Regions from separate parts of the Homo sapiens genome. Here region 2 is linked to region 1. Evidence: fine-mapped expression QTL. A gene starts in region 1. The other region holds a variant in brackets. All regions are shown on one strand. Distances are between the middles of the regions.

Evidence for each region. PIP is the estimated chance that this variant, and not a neighbour inherited with it, causes the effect.
Region 2: its variant is the best candidate, but not a certain one, in a credible set for the expression of AIDA in cerebellar hemisphere (GTEx, PIP 0.51).

The regions. Positions count from the first base shown.
Region 1 is chr1:222,709,335-222,714,716 of GRCh38, reverse strand. AIDA (axin interactor, dorsalization associated) reads left to right here and starts at 2,226. Exons shown (of 10, transcript NM_022831.4): 1 at 2,226-2,509. The coding sequence starts at 2,400. BROX (BRO1 domain and CAAX motif containing) reads right to left here and starts at 2,153. Exons shown (of 13, transcript NM_144695.4): 1 at 1,775-2,153. RefSeq lists enhancers at 956-1,175, 1,544-2,458 and a silencer at 2,126-2,345.
Region 2 is chr1:222,635,559-222,640,940 of GRCh38, reverse strand. The region is part of intron 6 of MIA3 (MIA SH3 domain ER export factor 3); the gene reads right to left. Among named protein-coding and RNA genes, the nearest start is that of MIA3, 20 kb to the right of the region's middle. The variant T/C (reference allele first, on the strand shown) is at 2,876.

The DNA.
Region 1 (5,382 bases):
TGGGAAGACTGAGGAGGGAGGATCCCCTGAGTCCAGGAGACGTAGGCTGCAGTGAGCCCTGATCTCCCCATGGCACTCCAGCCTGGGCGACAGGGCAAGATCCTATCTCAAAAAAGGAAAAAGGAAAAAAAAAACAAAAAACAAAAACTTGGAACACCACCTAAGTGAGATGCCAACTTAAAAAAAAAATTAAGTTCCATGCCTTCTACTTAAAAAAAAAAAAACGCGCGGTGGCTCACGCCTGTAATCCCAGCACTTTGGGAGGCCGAGGCGGGCAGATCACAAGGTCAGGAGATCGAGACCATCCTGGCTAACACGGTGACTCTACTAAAAGTACAAAAAAAAAATTAGCCGGGCATGGTGGCGGTCGCCTGTAGTCCCAGCTACTTGGGAGGCTGAGGCAGGAGAACCCAGGAGGCGGAGCTTGCAGTGAGCCGAGATGGCACCACTGCACTCCAGCCTGGGCGACAGAGGGAGACTCCGTCTCAAAAAAAAAAAAAAAAAAAAGCAGCATGTCTTGTCTAAATGTCCTTGGGTAGGTAGTGCAGCAGATAATAAGGAGAAAGCCCAGGCGAAGACCTAAACATGGCAATTAGATTCCAGGAAGTAACTGAGAAAAAATTCTGATAAGGTTCATTTAATTTGAAGGCACTAAAAAATTCTGACAATCGACTTTTCCTAGTATTAGAAAATAATGGTGGCTGTACAGTGTATGAAATGCCTACATTAAGTGCTTCCTTTATGCTATTTATTCATGACAAAGCTGGTTTTGAGGAGCACCACATACTTAATGAATAGAGAATACAGTGTGTACCCAACGAAAAACTGAGCAGGTTTATTTAGGACTCAAAACATTTAACGAGTTATTTCAGAAAATATCATCTTCTACACATCTTCCATATAAATTCCGATAGCCTAATACAGCATCTATGTGCCTACAAATAATATCACACTCAGCACTTGAGGCTGCGAAATCTTCCACAAATACTTCTTTTAATGCGGCCTCCTACTTCCTGGATGAAAATGTCTGAAGTTTTGCGAATCTTTACTTCAGGAAAGAAGAGGGTTTCTGCCCCTGCCCCATCTTCTCCCCTTCTGCGACCCGGCGGTCTTCAGTTTTCGGGAGTTCCTAGGGTGGGATAGAAGAACGACACACCCACCCGCAGGGACAAGGGTGCCTTTAGAGCCACCAATACAACATTCGGATCGAAGCTGTAAGCTAACACACTTCCACAAGAGGACTCCCGCTCCTAACAAGGGACCCCCACCCCGGAAGCCCCGAGTCCCCAGAGGAACCTACCTGAGCGCCGCCCCCGAGCTCTGAGCGCCCACTTCCTGTTTACCACCCAGCCTCTTCCTCCCGTGCCCAGTCCCGTTCGAGGCAGCGGGCGGCGACCGTGCGCACGCGCCAACACTTGAGTTCCCCTCTTTCCAAACAGGCATTTTTGTGGAAAGCCGATACTGTCAACCCGGGAGAGGTGGCCAGACAACGGCCGAACGAACCCCAGTTTAGCTTGTATTATAAGCTCTCCAATGACCAATGGAGATGCGGGGCAAGGGGATTCAGCGGATCTAGCTGTTAATGCCACTGATTTGTGGTGACCAATATGGATTTTCTTTCTGTCGTTTGTTTCAAGGCACTAGAAGGAGACTTTTGGTCCACTGTCCAGGGGTCTATGGAGACTAATGTAAAAGGGGGTGATCCTATTGCTTGAGACTCCGGGGAAGTAGCGGGGGATATTACTGAGAAACACCCATCCTCTGACATACTTACCAAATTTCTCAGAGTCGGTTCAGCAGTTCTTCTAAGGGAAGAAGGGCAATATATCGGAGTCCACAAGCGAGAAAAAGAGGGAGTCGGAGAACCGAGACTACAGAACCAGGGTGACGGAAAACCAGGACGGCGCCAAGCCGGAGTCACGTGACCCGGCGGCCATGATAGCTACCGAGGCGGTAGTGCGCGCAGCTCAGGGGCGGGTATTGCCGCGGCGTTGCAGTCCCCTCAAAACGCTTCGTTCATCATCCCTTTCTAACTTCTCCCTCGGCCTTCCTTTTGAGCTATGGTCTTTTTCCCAGACAGGAAGAGAAGAGTTGCCCCTACCTCCGGAGCCGAGGGAGAATGCCGCAATAGCGATGGCGGCCCTCGGCGCAGTGGGGCGGCCTCAACCTAACCCGGGGCGGGGCCTCGGGGGCGGGGTCTCGGCGGGGCGGTCGCTTTGGAGCCGCAAAGTTTGGCTGTGGCGGCAAATGGGCTTGGGCGGCTCCTCGGCGGGTGGCGGTGGTGGCCGTAGCGGTTCCTCCTGGCCCTGTTAATGTCGGGGCCAGGCCGGGGGAGGATGGCGCCCTAGAACCCGGCCTTGCTGGGGTAGGGGCGGGAGGGGACGGGGTGGGGACCGGCCATGTCGGAGGTGACCCGGAGTCTGCTGCAGCGCTGGGGCGCCAGTTTTAGGAGAGGCGCCGACTTCGACTCTTGGGGCCAGCTGGTGGAGGCGATAGACGAGTATCAGATGTGAGTGACTAACCGCGGGAGCAGGCCAGACCGGCTCCAGTCGTGCGCCTCTCCCTTGTTTCTGTCGGTGTCTCTCATCACCGTATCTGCAGCCAAGGCTTCTCAGGGTGGGGCTCCGCAGGCACTGGGGCTGAGATCCCTCGCCACCAGCCCCAGCGAGGCTGCTCTAGGGACAACGGCTCCGCTCTCTGGGGTGACTCGCCTTCTTCCCTCTCCGCCTCCGCAGGGACAGTTCCATTCAACAGGTAGCCCTTCTTTCCTGGGGCGCAGGCCCCAGCAGGCTATCTGCTTAGTTCCTTTCCACCGTCTCGCGGGTCCCCCACTTGGCAGTCAGTTTCCTTTCCTCCTCCTCTCCCAGGTTGCTTTTCCTCGATTTCCTTTTGAAATTCTCTGAGGAATACTTGTGTGTTCTCCGCCCACGTTCCAAGGATGAGTGGCCTTGCTCTGTGTGTGTCTTCCTTCTTCCATGCGTAGGAAAGGAGGGAACTGTTTGCGATTGAGGGGATGGGGGGGAGCCCAGGAAGCAACGAGGGCCAGGGATACCTCTTCTGCCAAAAGAAGGGTCTCCTCTCGCGCTCCTTCTCCACCCCTCTTTCTGGTGAGCCGTGTTTTCAGAATTCCACCTCGATTTCGTTTCGGTTTCTGGGACTGTTATTTGGTAGGCTGTGAGTCCCACCCACCCCCTCGCTCGGTTGCCTTGGGTGGAGTCCGCGCAGGATGTGAACCGAAGAGAGCAAAATGTGAATTAATGGACCACGCACAGGAGCTCCACGCCCTCCTTGGATCCCTCCTCCTTTTCCTGTATATAATGTATAGCCGCAGGGTACAAGTGAGTACCAGTTTCCTTGAGCAACCTAAGACCAATTTCTTGCCCTTTCTGGTTTCCACAGAAAACTTCAGGGTTGTCTTAAAAAATAAAAGACAAGATTTATATACACATAAAACCTTGCTTAGGTTTTTGCACATTTTACTGAACTTAAGAACTGTCTGCCAAAATGCTATTGTTTGCAAACTCGCCATTAATTATTCTCTGTTTAAAGCAAGTTATTGTTTGAGATTTCACTGAGTATGAAACCACGTATGAGTAGAATACCCCCGGCCTCCCCCACCCCCCATCCGCCCCCGACACACAACGATTTCTGGCAAGAATATACGCTTGGTACTTGGAAGATCTAAACTCTTATCGTCTCCCCGCAATAGTTATTTGTTTTTATCTATTAAGATAATTTAAATGTGTAGGTACTGACTTTGAATCGCCTGTAGCTTCAAAAAGCTCTGACAAAAACCCGTGCTCTGAGCCATTTTGCGATGTGTAACAACTACTAGCATTTGTTTTGCACTTTCACATGATTTCATTTGCTCTTGCAATAACCCAGTGAGAATATAATTATTCTCATTTTACGAAATGAGGAAAACTGAAGCTCAGGTTAAACAGATTACTCAGGTCACAAGCTGATACCACTGAAATCTGGGATTTAAAAAAGAAAATCCAAATCCTGTCTCTACTACAGAGTGCTTAAGATGTACTGAGAGAGTAATTCTGTAAGTGAATTAGACAAATGATAAGATTTTCTTTATTACTGGAGAACACACCCTTCCATACTGTAGCCAATTAGTAAGCACCTATGTATACCCATTCTGTATATTAACTAATATTGCATAGTTTGAAATAGAAAGCCATCTCTTACTTGTGAGGTGGTGAGACCTAGCAGCTGTTGACACTGGGCAGCCGACTTCACAATGGAAAGTGAAGAATACCATGTCCAATTGAAATTACAAAGGAAAATTGAATATGCAAGCTGTTTAGTTTGAATTTCTAGGAACATGAAGGTGAGGGTGATAGGCATGTGCAGATCCATTGTTGGACCTCAGTACTAACCATTGAACTTCATGATTCTAGTAGTCCTCAAATTATAAAAACTGCCAGGGTCAAATTTCAGTGAAAACATGTAATGATTGGCTTAAATTCTGTAAACATGTAGGCTACATATAAAATGAGGTCAAGAGTTTAAAATTACCTAATATATCCAGAAATGAATGCAAATTATCTTTTTCATTTGAAATATCTGGGAGGAAAGGCTGCAGCAAAATAGACCAATTGGGGGCCACTATAATGATGTAAACAAGAATTGACAGGATTTAGTTACTGACTGGATGTCGAGGGTGTAGAAGGAGGAAGAGTCTAGGATCGTTGGGATTTCTAATTGGGTAGGCAGCAATCTTATCGCCATACAACACACAGGAGCTGCTTTATGCGAGGGATGTAGGGGGAGAGATAGTGCATATCTGTATTCTCATAATGTAATAATACTGTAGCTTAAACAATTTCATGACTCAACAACTAAGGGTTAGGGATACAAAGATGAATAAAATTTGATTTCTGCCCTCAAAGCACTGAGAAGCCAATGGAAGATTTTAGAGTAACTGGGTGTTGCAATTACGGAAGTATGAAAAGAGTAAGTGCTCCCACATTCCTTGCTATTTCCTGGAACATAGTTCTGCCTTAGGGCTCTCGTATTTTTTTTCTGGGGCACTTTTCCCCCCATTATCTGTTTGGGTCACTTTGTCACCTCCTTCAGGTCTTTGTTCAAATATCCTCAGTGAGGCTGTCTCTGGCCACCCTGTTTAAAATTGCAAAGTCTCTTGTCCAACCCCACTGCCTCTATCTCAGTTTCACACCTCCTGCTCCCCATCCTGCTTCATTTTTTTCATTTTTTTCCATGGTACTTACCACAATCAAAAATATATTTTCTTTTTTTGTTTGTTTTGTTTTTTCTGAGACAGAGTCTTGCTCTGTCACCCAGGCTGGAGTGCAGTGGCGCGATCTCGGCTCACTGCAACCTGTGCCTCCCGGGTTCAAGCAATTCTCCTGC
Region 2 (5,382 bases), 74 kb after region 1:
GTATATCTTCCTTGGTAAAGTGTAATTTTACTGCATTACATTTTTTTAGATGAATTTTGAGAGTTCTTTATGTATTCTGAATACAAATATTTTATCAGATAGATGCTTTGCAGTGACTCTTTCCCAGTCTGTAGTTTGTATAACAGTGTGTTTTGAAGAGATGTTTTTATTTTGATTAAATCCAAATAATCAAATTTCTCCTTTATGAATCATACTTTTGATGTCAACTGTAAGAAATCTTTGCCAATCCAAGTTCAACAAAATTTTTCTCTTAATTTTTCCTAGAAGTTTTATGGTTTTAGGGTTTACATTTAAGTCTATTATCTGCTTTGAGTTAATTTATGTACATCATGTGAGGTATGGATCAATTTTTTGCATATAAATATCTAATAGTTTTGGTACCATTTGTTGAAAAGACTTTCCTTTGTACATTTAATTGTCTTTCCACCTTTGTCAGAAGTCCACTGTCATACATGTATATTTCCAGATTTTCTATTTTGTTCCAATGGTCTATTCATCTGCTGTCTTACTTACTAGAGCTTTATAGTAAGTCTTGAAATTACATGATGCTTGGGCTATTCTAGGTCCTCTGCATTTTCCATATGAATTGTAGAATCAGCTTGTCATTTAAAAAAAAATCCTTCTGAGATTTTAATTGGGGCTATGTTAATGCAAGTGATCAAATTGGGGAGCTTAACAATATAGTCTTCTGACTCATAAACAAGGTCTATCTCTCCATCTATTTAGGTCTTCTTTAATTTCTATCAGCAATATTTTATAGTTTTTAATGCATATGTCTTACACACTTTTTGCCACATTTATCCATAAGTACTCCATATTTTTGATACTATTGTACATGGAATTTAACTTCAATTTCCAATTGTTCATTGCTACGATATATAAATACAATTGCTTTTAGATGTAAATCTTTATCTAGCAACCTTACTAAACTAGATTTTTTTCTACATCCCACCAGATTTTATGCATGTTGTCTGCAAAAAAAGACAATTTTACTTATTTCCCAATCTGGATGCATTTTATTTCTTTTTCTTGCCTTAGTGCACTGGCTATTGCCTTATAACACTGAACAGATGTAATGAGAGTAGACATTCTTGTTTCACTTCTGGATCTTGGGGGAAAAACATTCAATCATTCACTATTAAGTATGATGTTTAAGTCTTTCATAAAAGTGATTTAAGTTCCCTTCCATTCCTAGTTTGTTGATATATTGTTTTTTAAATTACATAGTAATCAATTTTAGATTTTTTTCAAAGTGGTTTTCTGTGTTTGTTGAACTGAACATATGGATTGTCTTTTTAAAGTTTGTCATTATGGTTAATTACACTGATTTTCAAATGTTAAACAAACTTTGTATTCTTGATGTTAACCCTATTTGGTCATAGAGTATTTTCCTTTTTATATATTGCTGGATTTGATTTGCTAAAATTTTTGTTTAGAATTTTTGTACCAATGTTTATGAGAGATACTGGTCTGTGGTTTTCTTTCTTACTTGTCTTTGTCTTTGCCTTGTTTTGATATCCTGGTAACATCAGCTTCATACAATGAGCTGGGAAGTATTTTCTCCTCTTCAGTTTAATAGACAAGTTTGTGTAGAATTTGTAGTATTTCTTCCTCTTAAGTTTAATAGAATTCAGCAGTGAAGCCATCTGGGTTTTCTTTGTGGAAAGGTTTTTAGCTGTAAATCCAATTTACTTAATAGTCATAAGGTTATCTGTTTCTTCCTGAATGAGCTTTTGCAGTCTGTGTCTTAGATAGAATTTCTTCATCTAAATTGTCAAATTAGTTGACATAAATTGCTCATAATATTCCCTTATTATAATTAACATCTGAAGAATATGTGGTGATGTCTCTCTGATTGCTGCTATTGGTGATCTGTATTCCCTCTCTTCTTTCCCTGTTCACTTTGGCTATAGGTTAATCAGTTTTATTAATCTCAAAGAACCAGGTTTTGGTTACATTGATTTTCTCTCTTTTCCTTTTGTTTTCTATTTCACTGAATTATGCTCTTATCTTCATTATTTCTTTTCTCCTGTTTACTTGAGGATTAATTTGCTTTTCTTTTTCTAGTCTCTTATGGTGGAAAATAAAGTCACTTATTTGAGACCTTTCCTTTTTTTTCTAATATAGGTAGTGCTATACATTTCCCACTCGTTCTTTGGCGACATTGTACACACTTGATATATTTGTTTTCATTTTCTTGTCTTTATTTTTTTTTCTTTTCTTGAGACAAGGTCTCATTCTGTCACCCAGGCTGGAGTGCAGTGGTACAATCTCTGCTCACTGCAGCCTCGACCTCCTGGGCTCAAGCAACCTTCCCACTTCAGCCTCCTGAGTAGCTGGGACTACAGACACGTGCCACCATGCCCAGCTGTGTGTGTGTGTGTGTGTGTGTTTTGTAGAAACAGGATTTCACCATGTTTAGGCTGGTCTTGAAGTTCTGGGCTCAAGTGATCCTCCTGCCTCAGCCTTCCAAAGTGCTGGGATGCCACTGCGCCTGGCCTGTTTTCATTTTCATTCATCTCAAAATACTAATTTCTCCTTTTCCTTTTAAACTCATAAGATGTTCAGAAAGAAGTGTGTCACCTAGTTTCCAAATATTTGGGGATTTTCCAGATATTTCCATTATTCATTTCTAACTTAATTATATTGTGAAGAGAACAGACTTTGTACTACTTGAATCATTTTATATTCATTAGACTTGTTTTATGGCTGATAATATAGTTTATTTTGGTAAACGCTTCATGTGCACTAAAAAGTATATAATATGTATTCTGCTCTTCTTGGGTGGAATGTTCCATAAACATCAATAATGTCAAGTTGGTTAATGATGATGTTCATAACTTCTAGATCCTTA[T/C]TGACTTCCTATTCTATCAGTTATTGAGAAGGGATACTGAAATCTCCAATTATAATTGTAAATTGATCATCAATAAGAATAACTGGCCAGGCATGGTGGCTCATGTCTGTAATCCCAACACTTAGGGAGGCTGAGGCAGGCAAATTACTTGAGCCCAGGATTTTGAGACCAGACTGGGAAACATGGCAAAACCCCGTCTCTACAAAAAATATAAAAAATGGTAGCACACACCTGTAGTCCCAGCTACTCAGGAGGCTGAGGTAGGAGGATCACCTGAGCCCAGAGAGGTCGAGGCTGCAGTGAGCCATGATCACACCACTGCACTCCAGCCTGGGAAACAGGGTGAGACCCTATCTTAACCAAAAAAAAAAAAAAAAAAAATTATTCTTGATTGGATAGAAACACACCAAATATTTTTAAATCCATGACAGCATAATGATTATTAGAAAGAGTCAGAAAAAAACAAAACCCTTTGGGCATCATTTGATAATGCCACGAATGAGTTGTCTAACTCGTTATTTTGAAAACTGTTTAAATAAACAAAAAGAATCAAATATTTACCCTGCCTTAACTATACAAGCCAAATCTCAGTGTAAAGAATACTTGATCATAAGTTTCTCTTTGTAGAAATACCCCAGCCTTTAAATGAAGGAGGAACAATATAAAGAGAATTTTAAAAAAAGAGGGACACCCAGATGTTAAATGCCTCCTGATGGAAGTACATAACATCTCCTATTAAGTATTCTTGACAAACAAAATTGAATCTGAATTTGACTACTGATGCAACTATCAATTCCCAGGAAATATAAAGAACCAGAGAAAAATGTTAAAATACACCAGGGGGATGTAGTCAGCAAAATCTAGACCATCATATACCTTAGAAGCCAAACAAAACTGTTTCTTCAATGAATGCACTGCAATAATAACAGAAAGAACTCCATAGACAGTAACTGGTATGAGACTCACCCTCCCACTGAAAGCAACAAGCAAACTAAACAAAAGATATTTAAAAACTGTTTTTCATATAGAGAACAACAGGCAGCACACAATTGTGACCCCTGAGAGAAAAGAAACAAATAGGTGAGCTCTACAACCTCCCAGCTTTCTACCTGGCGGTACTTTCTTGACTTCAGTGCAGGGATAGGGAACCCAAGCAGAGTACACCAATCTTGCAGAGGAGGCAGAGATTAAAGCTCGGGGAGACTGAGGCATCTGAAATATGCAGGAAAAGGTACCAGAAAGATGGATACTATGGGCTGGGCACAGTGGCTCACACCTGTAATCCCAGCACTTTGGAAGGCCGAGGCCGGTGGATCACGAGGTCAGGAGTTCGAGACCAGCCTGGCCAAGATGATGAAACCCTGTCTCTACTGAAAAATACAAAAATTAGCCGGGTGTGGTGGCGGGTGCCTGTAATCCCAGCTACTTGGGAGGCTAAGGCAGGAGAATCGCTTGAACCCGGGAGGTGGAGGTTGCAATGAGCCAAGATGGCACCGCAGCACTCTAGCCTGGGCAACAGAGCAAGACTCTATCTCAAAAAAAAAAAAAAAAAAAAAAAAGATGGACACTAGGAACAAGTAGAGTTCCAGAAATATGCAAGGAGGTCTCTCCTTCAGCCTCAGCCTGAATTCTAAACAGCTCCTGTGTAGGGTAAGATTCCTTGAGGATGGGCAAAGAATAACTAAAGGAAAAAAGAACAACTGTAAGCTAAACAATTCCCAGAGTTGTCACAGGGCTGCAAGACATTTAAATTCCAGCTAGTCAGAGTGAACTGACACACAAAAAACTATGGCCAATAAGCAGTGAAAAAGTGCTCAATATCATTAATCATCAGGAATTACAATTAAAACCAGAAAGGCATACCCACTACAATGGCTAAAATTTAAGACTGATAATACCAAGTGTTAGGGAAGGTGTGGTCAAATGGAAGTTTCATTAACTGCTGATGGAAGTATAAAATGGTACAGTCACTTTTGGGAATTATTGGGTGATGGTCCCACGGATTCTCTGCTTTTGTATATTTGAAATTTTCCAGGATAAAATGCTAAAATAAATTAAAGTATAACTTCAAATATTTAAAGGATTACTATGTAAAAAGAAAACTAGATTCTATAGAGGAAATCATCTGGAGGAAAATTTGGAGTCAGTATAAGAATGAAATAGGCAACAAAGGAATGTATAGCCTTGCAAGGTAGGCGGCTTACACTAGGAACCGGTGACGCACAGGTCCCAAAATGGCAGGGTTAGAGTACAGGGAATTGCTGTGACTACTGAGAAGTTGGACTAGTAGCTTCTAAGGTCTCTTCCAACCCTAAGATTCCACTAACTATTCATCAATTATTGATCTACGAGTCTGACCTCTGGTATAGTTTTCCCAATAAAGTCAGCACCCCATTACTCCAAAACCCTATGAAACAATTATCTATATGAACTACTTGATACTTTGCATAAACTATTTCCTATATTCTCCACTTTCTCCAATTTTCACATGTATTTGGTAAACTTTT